Homo sapiens: one gene and its partner. The protein of the gene in region 2 interacts with the protein of the main gene of each other region in a pairwise test. Each region holds a gene or a part of one and is shown on either strand. Other genes may lie near its edges. The genes, in order: MUC20 and ELOVL3.

What was found.
Region 1: the proteins of ELOVL3 (region 2) and MUC20 interact in a two-hybrid assay, tested with the Homo sapiens proteins (one large-scale study listed by BioGRID and IntAct).

The regions. Positions count from the first base shown.
Region 1 is NC_000003.12:195,719,439-195,723,941, reverse strand, and holds the start of MUC20 (mucin-20 isoform a precursor), read right to left. Parts: upstream 2,965-4,503; 5' UTR 2,935-2,964; coding exon 2,859-2,934; intron 1-2,858. UniProt on the Homo sapiens protein: May regulate MET signaling cascade. Seems to decrease hepatocyte growth factor (HGF)-induced transient MAPK activation. Blocks GRB2 recruitment to MET thus suppressing the GRB2-RAS pathway. Inhibits HGF-induced proliferation of MMP1 and MMP9 expression.
Region 2 is NC_000010.11:102,224,902-102,229,394, reverse strand, and holds the start of ELOVL3 (very long chain fatty acid elongase 3), read right to left. Parts: upstream 3,097-4,493; 5' UTR 2,847-3,096; coding exon 2,746-2,846; intron 1,770-2,745; coding exon 1,638-1,769; intron 979-1,637; coding exon 827-978; intron 571-826; coding exon 143-570; 3' UTR 1-142. UniProt on the Homo sapiens protein: Catalyzes the first and rate-limiting reaction of the four reactions that constitute the long-chain fatty acids elongation cycle.

The DNA of each region.
Region 1 (4,503 bases), on a different chromosome or scaffold from region 2:
GCCCAGAGCAGAGGCCTGTTCCCTTGACTGGCCCTGAGGTGGGAGGAATGGGAGTCCCCGAGGGAGGCTACGGTAGGATATCTTCCCTAGAGACAGGGTCTTGCTCTGTTGCCCAGGCAGGTCTTGAATTCCTGGGCTCAAGCGATCCTCCTGCCTCAGCCTCTTGAGTAGTTTACTACAAGATCTTTTCTGGCCTGAGAAAGGGGGCCTCCCCTGTCTAGAGGGAGATCGGGCTCTCCCTGTGAGTGGGCCAAGGAGCCTCTTGGAGAGGGTTTCTAGATTTAGCAAATAAAAATACAGGGTACTCGGTTAAATTTGAACTTGCATTTCAGATAAACGACGAATAACTTTTTAGCATGAGTATTTCTCATGCAATATTGGCTACATACTTACACTTAAAAAAAATTGTTACCTGAAATTCAAATGTAACTGGATGCCCTGTGTTTTATCTGGTAATCCCAGTCTTGGAAGGAAAAGGATCAAATACGAACCCCCTAATTCTCTGAGCCTTCTTGGTCCAGCCTACACAGCTGGAAGCCCAAAGGTGGCGCTCTTGGAGTCTGACCTCCCCTGGCACAGGGTTTGAGATGGTCTTTACCCAGCTCCACTGGCCCAAAAGTAGCCCATAGACCCAAAAGGGGCCTAGCACCTCTCCCCAGGGCATCAGGATGGGGCCCCAGGTCCCCAACTGGTTGTCCTGTGGACCTCAGGGAATGACGACGCAGGAGTCAAGAGCCTCGGTTGCAGCTCCCGCTGTGCCGCCCACGACTGGCTCCGGGGTCAGATGATCTGCTGGTTCAAATCCTGACTCAGCCTCCTACTAGCCAGGCCAGTCTCTAGACCCCTCCCAGCCTCCATGTCCTCACCTGAGAAAACAGGGTCACAATACCTGCCTTGCCAACGTGATGAGGACCAGCGGAGAAGGTGAAAGGGCTTATATTCCAAAGCCCACAAGGTAAGCATCCCTCCCTATGGAGTCCTCTCCCAGGCCACTGGAAAGCACGCATAGTTGATCTGACTATAGTGAGGAGTGCGGGCTGCACCCCCAGGCAGTATAGGCGAGTCCCGGGCACCCACTCTCATCCCTGGTCCAGTGCGGCCCAGCTGCACACACAAATCTCACTTTTGCAGGAACTGTTCGTCTGCCTTCATAATACAGTTTCTTCTCCCCACTTCAAGCCTGAGATCATTTCTTTGAGCCTTCTTGGTCCAGCCCACACAGCTGGAAGCCCAGAGTGGTGCCCTTGGAGCCCGACTTCCCCTGGCACATTTTCTGGCTTATCCAGGAGCCCCGGGGTGTCCTTTCTGCTGTGAAACCTCCTCATGCTCCCCAAGCCCACAGCCTCTCGGGTCCAAGGGGGTCTTCTCGAATACAGCAAATCCCAGCCCAGCCCCTCAGTAGCTCTGGAACACTGCGGCTCTCCTGGTACAATCTTCAAATCTGGTGGAGAGGAAAGCGTGTGGACTTGGGACCCTGAGTTGGAGAATCTGCTCTCTGCCCTGTGACCCTGGCCAAGTCTCTCAGCTCCAAGCCTGCATTTCCGCACCTGTAAGGTGGAGCTAACGGGACACGTGCAGCGCAGACCAGGCCACGGTGAGCACAGGCAGGAGGCCACGGGGTGCAGTGCTCAGGCCTGTGAGGAGTCAGATTCTGGCTCCGAGGAGTTGTTACTGGATGCCCAGAAGCACAGTGGCCTCACCCTTAAAGCAGTGGAGGTGGGGGGTGGTAAAAACAGGGCCGATCTTGCAGGGCCGTTGTGAGGATTAAAAATACAATGTATGATAATGATGCATCAAAGTAGGTTCCTCAGTCCTATCAAATGTGCCACTCTGGTGGGGGACGCTGATGATGGGGGAGGCTGTGAGTGGTGGGGATGGGAACTCCAGACTCTCCACTGCAGCTTTTTTTTTTTTGAAACATAGTTTCACTTTTGTTGCCCAGGCCAGAGCGCAAGGGTGCGATCTCAGCTCACTGCAAACTCCACCTCCCAGGTTCAAGCAATTCTCCTGCCTCAGCCTCCCGAGTAGCTGGGATTACAGGCACCTGCTACCACCCCCGGCTAATTTTGTATTTTTAGTAGAGACGGGGTTTCTCCATGTTGGTCAGGCTGGTCTCGAACTCCTGACCTCAGGTGATCCACCCACCTCAGCCTCCCAAAATGCTGGGATTACAGGTGTGAGCCACCACGCCCGGCCTCTCCACTCGAGGTTTAGAGGGAGCATAGAACTAAAAAAAAAATAAATCCTTTTCTATTTTTTAATGTATGTGATGAGTTTGGCACAACTCCTATTAGCGACAGGTCAGGGTTCATTCCCGTCTTTCACAAAAGCCCTGCCTGTCAGCATCCACCCTTCCCAAGCAGTTTGTGGCAGTTGGACTTTTCACACGAAATCTGTATTTTGAAGGAAATCCATGCTAGGTAATAAACTGGGAGGAGTCAGAATCTTGTTAAGCCACATTCTTCAGCTTTCTGCACAATGATCACCAGCTGGCACCTCCCTGCACCCCCGCTCCGTGCCCCACTTACTGTCCCACGTTCATAAAGACAAACTCTCAGCCATCCCTTACGATGGCAGCGTCATGGTTGATTAGCGTGTACTGCAGCGCCAGGCACGCTTACACTCACACACATCGTCATGGTTGATTAGTGTGTACTGCAGCGCCATGCACGCTTACACTCACACTGTCATTTGCACACTCTTTATCAACAATAATAGCACTTCACAAGTAGCACTGTGGTTCATTATAATCAACCCGAGAGAGCCTGCCCTTGCCCATGAAGGGTGGCTCATACTGAAATTCACTCCCAGAGCCCTACTAGGGGAGAGGCCCACCAGGCCCTTCTAGGCCTCCTTACCTGCAGAGCTCCCAGAGACCCCAACCTCCCAGCAGAAGAAGAAAAGGGGCAGAGCCAGACCCCAGAGACAGCCCATCCTAGCCGGCCACCGCTGCTCCACAGAACTGCTGGCTGTCTCTCGCGGGTACCTTTTCCTGCTTCCTCAAACCAGGGAGGAGGGGCAGCCTCCTGCCCAGGTGTGTGACCAGGTGATCACAAATGTGCAGGCTGAGGGCTGGCAGGTTGAGGCTGTCAGCAAGCTGACCCCCCTGCCTTCCTTGCCCGGTAAACACTCCACTGAAATTTGATTTGAAGATATGGAATCACTAGCTTCTTTTTTTTTTTTTGAGATGGAGTCTTGCTCTGTCACCCAGGCTGGAGTGTACAGTAATGAGATCTCAGCTCAATGAAACCTCTTCCTCCCGGGATCCAACAATTCTCCTGCCTCAGCCTCTGGAGTAGCTGGGATTATAGGCGCGCACCACCACGTCGGGCTAATTTTTGTATTTTTAGTAGAGATGGGGTTTCACCATGTTGGCCAGGCTAGTCTCAAACTCCTGACCTCAGGTGATCTACCTACCTCAGCCTCCCAAAGTGCTGGGAGTACAGGCATGAGCCACTGCACCCAGCCAAGTGCTTTTATTTTCTTAAGCCAATTAATTAGAGCTCTTTTATATATTTTCAGTAGCAAAACACTGTGTACACAACAACACATAAATACACAGATGTATTAGGTATGCTGAAAGAAGTTCATCTTATAGATTCATAAAGAGCTTTTTTCTTACACCTTCAAATTCTTTTTTACTTTTTTTTTTTTTTTTTTTGAGACAGAGTCTCACTCTGTTGCCCAGGCTGGAGTGCAATGGCTTGATCTCGACTCACTGCAAACTCTGCCTCCTGGCTTCAAGTGATTCTCCTGCCTCAGCTTCCTGAGTAGCTGGGATTATAGGCACCTGCCACCACATCTGGCTAATTTTTTTTGTATTTTTAGTAGAGACGGGGTTTCAACATGTTGGCCAAGATGGTTTTGAACTCCTGACCTCAAGAGATCTTTGCGGCTCAGCCTCCCAAATGCTAGGATTACAGACGTGAGCCACCGTGCCCAGCCACACCTTCGAATTCTTGATAACCTGTTTTACTACTCTAAGCGGTTGTCAGCTAAATAGCCTTGAATTTGCATTTTAAGGAAACTGAGGTGAAAATCGAATAGCAAAATTTACATCATAACGTATGGAGAGAAAAAGTCTGGTGTGCTGGAGGGAAATTAAAACAGATTTAATTGCCAATTAAACATAAAATTATAGAAATTATAAAGGCCTTTTAAATATATACACACACACAAAGATCCTATAGCTTTTACTTCAGAAATTTAGCCATGAAAGCTGGGCGCGGTGACTCACGCCTGTAATCCCAGCACCTTGGGAGGCCGAGGCGGGCAGATCACCTGAGGTCAGGAGTTGGAGACCAGCCTGACGAACATGGAGAAACCCCATCTCTACTAAAAATACAAAAAATTAGCCAGGCATGGTGGTGCATGCCTGTAATCCCAGCTACTCGGGAGGCTGAGGCAAGAGAATCACTTGAACCAGGGAAGAGGAGACTGTGGTGACCCAAGATCACGCCATTGCACTCCAGCCTGGGCAACAAGAGTGAAACTCTGCCTCAA
Region 2 (4,493 bases):
AAAATTCCAGCCACCTTGGGGCACACATCCTCTGGGGAAACCATGCAGGTAAGGCAACCTAATCATTCTCCCAAAACTAAGCCCAGCCTCTTGGTGCCCTGGAGAAGAGAGAGCCTGGAGCTTCATTGTTCTCTCCAAACCTTCACTGGCTCTTGGTCTTGGCTTTGACCTTGGGCCTGATGTAGGTCTGGCAGAAGAAGTGGGCAAAGAGGATGAAATAGGTCATATACAAGATGAAGGACCAGAATAAGTGTTCCATCGTGGTGTGGCATCCCTGATCCTGCCTCCAGATGTACGTGAGGATGCTGACGATGGCTCCTACAAACATCTGCAAGATCTGCAGGCTGGTGATGAGCATGGGCAGCATCTTGGGGGGCTTCACGTTGGCAGCCTTCAGAGTGTAGTAGGTGTACATGATGGCATGAACACCAAAGTTCATGGTGACGAACCAGCCTCCTGCAGGCACTTTGTTCTTGTATCCAAAGCTTGTGTACACGAGCACTGTGCTGTGGTGGTACCAGTGAATAAAGATGAGTGGCCGCTTACGCAGGATGATGAAGGCTGTGTCTCCTGGGAGATGGAGAGTCATAGTTGGCATACCACCCAGTGCTGGGACCACCCTCTGCACTGGATGTAGGGACACGGGAGAAATTCTCAGGGGAGGGAAGGGGGTCTTTGTGGCAGAGAATCTGTAGAGGGGCTTGGGTGAGAGGTATTATTGGGACCCAAGGGTAGGAAAGAGACCCTCCATGGGATGGGTGAAGGGAGGGCCCTGAGGAAGGATGCAGTTCACAAGGCACCAGAAAGACAAAGCTTTGCCACTCACCGAGTTCTATGACCTTGCTGAGAAGAAAGACCCAGGACCAGAATTTGACTGTGGAATTATCGATGAAGTTGATGAAGCACACGGTTTGCTTTAGGCCCCCGGTAAGTAGCACAGTCCCCATAATGCCCCACATCCTCACTGCCCCCAGGATACTGAAATGGGACAAAGGAAGATGGTGTAAGTGTCATCCCCAGGCACCAATAATCCACCCTTCCCCCGGCTTGGCCAGGTTACTGTGTTCCAAGCTCTACCACCTCCCCACCTGTCCACAGGGGGTGGGTCAAAGCTCCTGAGATCCTGAAGCCAATCTGGTAGATCCAATCAGTAGTCTAGAGGAGACGAGGGCTGGAGAAAGATCAGGGAATGCAGGGGGATGGGACTGAAAGTTGAGTTAAGGAATGGGGTTCTTGGGAGGGGTTAGGAGCCTGGGAGGAGATGTGTAGAGGGATAGGGGAAGACTGAAGGAGTTTGGGGGAGAAAATATGGGGAAGTTATTGGAGGGTCTTGAGAGAGGGTGTTAGGAGGTGACACTATTAGAGGCTGGAGAAATTAGTTGCGAGTACAGACTCTACGAAGGCAAGAGGGACAAAGCAGAGACCACCAGGTAGGGGTCTAAAAGAGAAGGAAAACAGGATAATATAACAGAAGAGGGTGAAGGCTGGGAGGGGAACTAAAGCCGAGAATGAGATGGGGAGAGTGTTACAAGGCAACTTGGGGACAGGATGGAGGTTGATGCAATCGGGAAAGCTTCAAGGGATAGAATGGTGGTCTAAGATCTAGAGAAGAGGCAGGGAGTGGGATGGGGTCTTACCTGAAGATTGCAAGGCAGAAGGACCAGAGGATGAGAGGCCCTTGCAGGTTGAAGCCCTTGCGTTCCTTCATGTAGTTCTGCCCCACAGCGATGAGAACCAGGTAGATCAGGGCTATGGGGAATGAGGTTGCCCTGGCAAGCAGAAGGCAGAGGGATGGGCTCATGGGTGGGTGCTGATTAGAGAAATGCCCACTCATCTCTCCAGGTGAGTGCTCTGGGTTGGAGTCCCAGTTCTGCCACTTACTAGCTATGTGACATTGGAAAAACCAACTTAATTCTCTGAGCCTTGGCTTCCTCATTTGTAGAGCGCGAATACTACATCTCTCCTGGGGGTATTAACGTATACAAAGTATCTAGCACAGGGCAGGAGCTATGTCCAAGGTTTCTGTGATTATTGCTCTCTCAGTGGGGTTAGAGGTGGGTGACGGCTGTCTGGCCCGCGCCTAGAAGCAGCCCAGGGCTGTGGTGTAAGAAGTGTGGCAATAGCTTCTCCCTGGTTGGGGCTCCTAGAAGCATACCAGGGCTGTGGCGTAAGAAGAATGTGGCAATAGCTTCTCCCTGGCTGGGGTATGGCAAATTGGTTGGAGCATAAAGTCAGCCTCCAAAACCTCTGGGGAGCTTTAAGGCAAAGCCAGAGAGCTCTTCCTGGGGAAAGCTTGGAAGAGCTCTCTGACTTCGCCTCCTTCTCCACAGCAGGAACGGTGGAGCACCTGGGGAACGATGGGATAATTGTAAAGGGCAGGCTGTCCCCCGGGCCCTGCACTGTGCACACACGCGCGCACACACAGCCACAAAGGACGGGGAAGTCATCTAGTAAGGCTTCAGATCAACCTCACGCCTCCAAGACCCTTCTCACTACACGCTCTCTTTGACTTCTGTATATTTCCACGTTCTCCCTCATCCTCTTATTTCTGCTTGCTTGCTTTCAGCTCTAATCTCTTTGAGGTGCCACATACTACCTGCACCTCGGACAAAGGTAGTGTGAAGCCAGTACAAGGGAGTCCCATAACTCTGCTCTGTAAGAAAATCATTGTGGGCATTCAATGCCACCCCCTCGCGCCCCGGCCCCGGGGCCCTGGCATGGCCTTTCCCTCTCCCAAAGTCTCACCAATACTCCTCGAAAAAGGGCCTCATGTCCTTGGACAGCTCGAAGTTATAGGGCTGGAACAGCTGATTTACTTCATGTGAGACATTCATGGCTGTGACCATCTAGTTTTGCAGAAGTCAAGGTCCAAAGCTTGGAGGCGCTGGGTGAAAGGCTGGGGCTCCGAGGATGGCGTGAACCTCGGGGCGAGACGGAACAGAGCCGGGACAGAAGGAACTCCTGGGCAAAGGGAGGAGGGCGTCGAACCTAGGCATGTGCGCGGCGGCGCAGCCAGCTATCCCGGGCGCAGCCACTGCGATATATAACGCGGACTTGCAAAGCTGCCTGCCCGGGCTGGCGCGACCTCTTTCCTGCGCCCCGCCGCTATCCAATCTCGACCAAGATACGCCTCTGCTCCGCCCCTGGGACGCAGTCCGCATTCTGATTGGTCATACTCAAGGGCCCGCCTGCCAGGCGTTTCGCACACCCCGCCCCAAGTCCCGTCGTAGGCCATCGCCCGCCCACTTCCCCAGCCTTTTCTCCCGTAAAACGTCCACCCCATCCTGTGCGGCCTTGCGGGTTCCCTTGGAACTGTCAACCGTGGCCTTTGCCTCGGTTTGCTTTAATCTTGACCTGCTTAGCAGTGAAGAGAGAGGAAAGGTGTCCTTAGGCTTTGGTGCTCCCACCCAGAAATGGAGGCGTCAGTTTCCAGGCTCCCTGAGATCCTGGGAAACCCAGGCCTGTGATGAGCAAATACTAACCTGGGCAACGCAGAGCTTCTGTAGTCCCTTCCACCTCCTAGCTTCGAGTCTGCGGTTGTGAGTGGGTGGAAGGAGATGAATTTTAAGGAGTTTTATTGTTGAGGTTGTTGATGTTGATGTTTGGGTTGTTGAGGCTGTTGTGGTTTCTTTATAGTTTCCTGAATTCCTGAACTGCTCCAGACTGACAGTAATAACCATGGAGAGAGGAAATGGGGTCACCCTCTGGGCTTCTGGAATTATTGTCTTCAGGTTTCCTGGAGGCCTCTTAGGGTTTAGGGAGGGGGAGAGCCAGTGTATCTCCCCAAGGCCTGTTGTTTTCTCTCCCTAACCAAATCTACTTCTTTCTCGCCTGTGTAACCAGCCCCAAAGAAATAAATGTTCTAAAACTTTTAAAAGTTTTACTTGGCTGTCCCTTATTTCTTTCCTAGGTTTTATGAAAGCGAAGGAGAAATACAAGGCTTGAGGGCAGTTTGAGATAAGGTGGAAATTTGCAAAAAGTGCTAAGAAACATAGATATAAAATAATTAAAATCAAGATGTGGGTATAAATGGCTATGTGCAGTAAAGCTCTAGAGCCAGAGGATCCAAGTAGGAACCCCAGCTCTATTTCCTGAACCTCAGCCACTGTCTATGCGAGGGTGTAGTGGAAGTCCTATCAGTGCCATCTAAGTGACTCAAAAGTGCATCTCTTTGTCTCTGTACCTCATCACTTCTCACCTGGTCACGTTACCTGGTTGCACTGCCTCTTTCTCTAATACAGTGCTTCTGCTCTTCACTGCATTGCAATCAGAAAAGAGTTCCTATACCTGGCTGATTACCAGATTCCTGAGCCTCAACTGCAGAGATTCTGGTCCTATAGGTTGTCTCAGACTGTACTTGGAAAACCACTACTTTCTGTTTGCTCATCCAGAAAACAGCTCTGCTTTCCTGCTTAAAAACCTTCAGTGGTTCGGCCGGGCACGGTGGTTCACGCCTGTAATCCCAGCACCTTGGGAGGCCGAGGCGGGCAGAT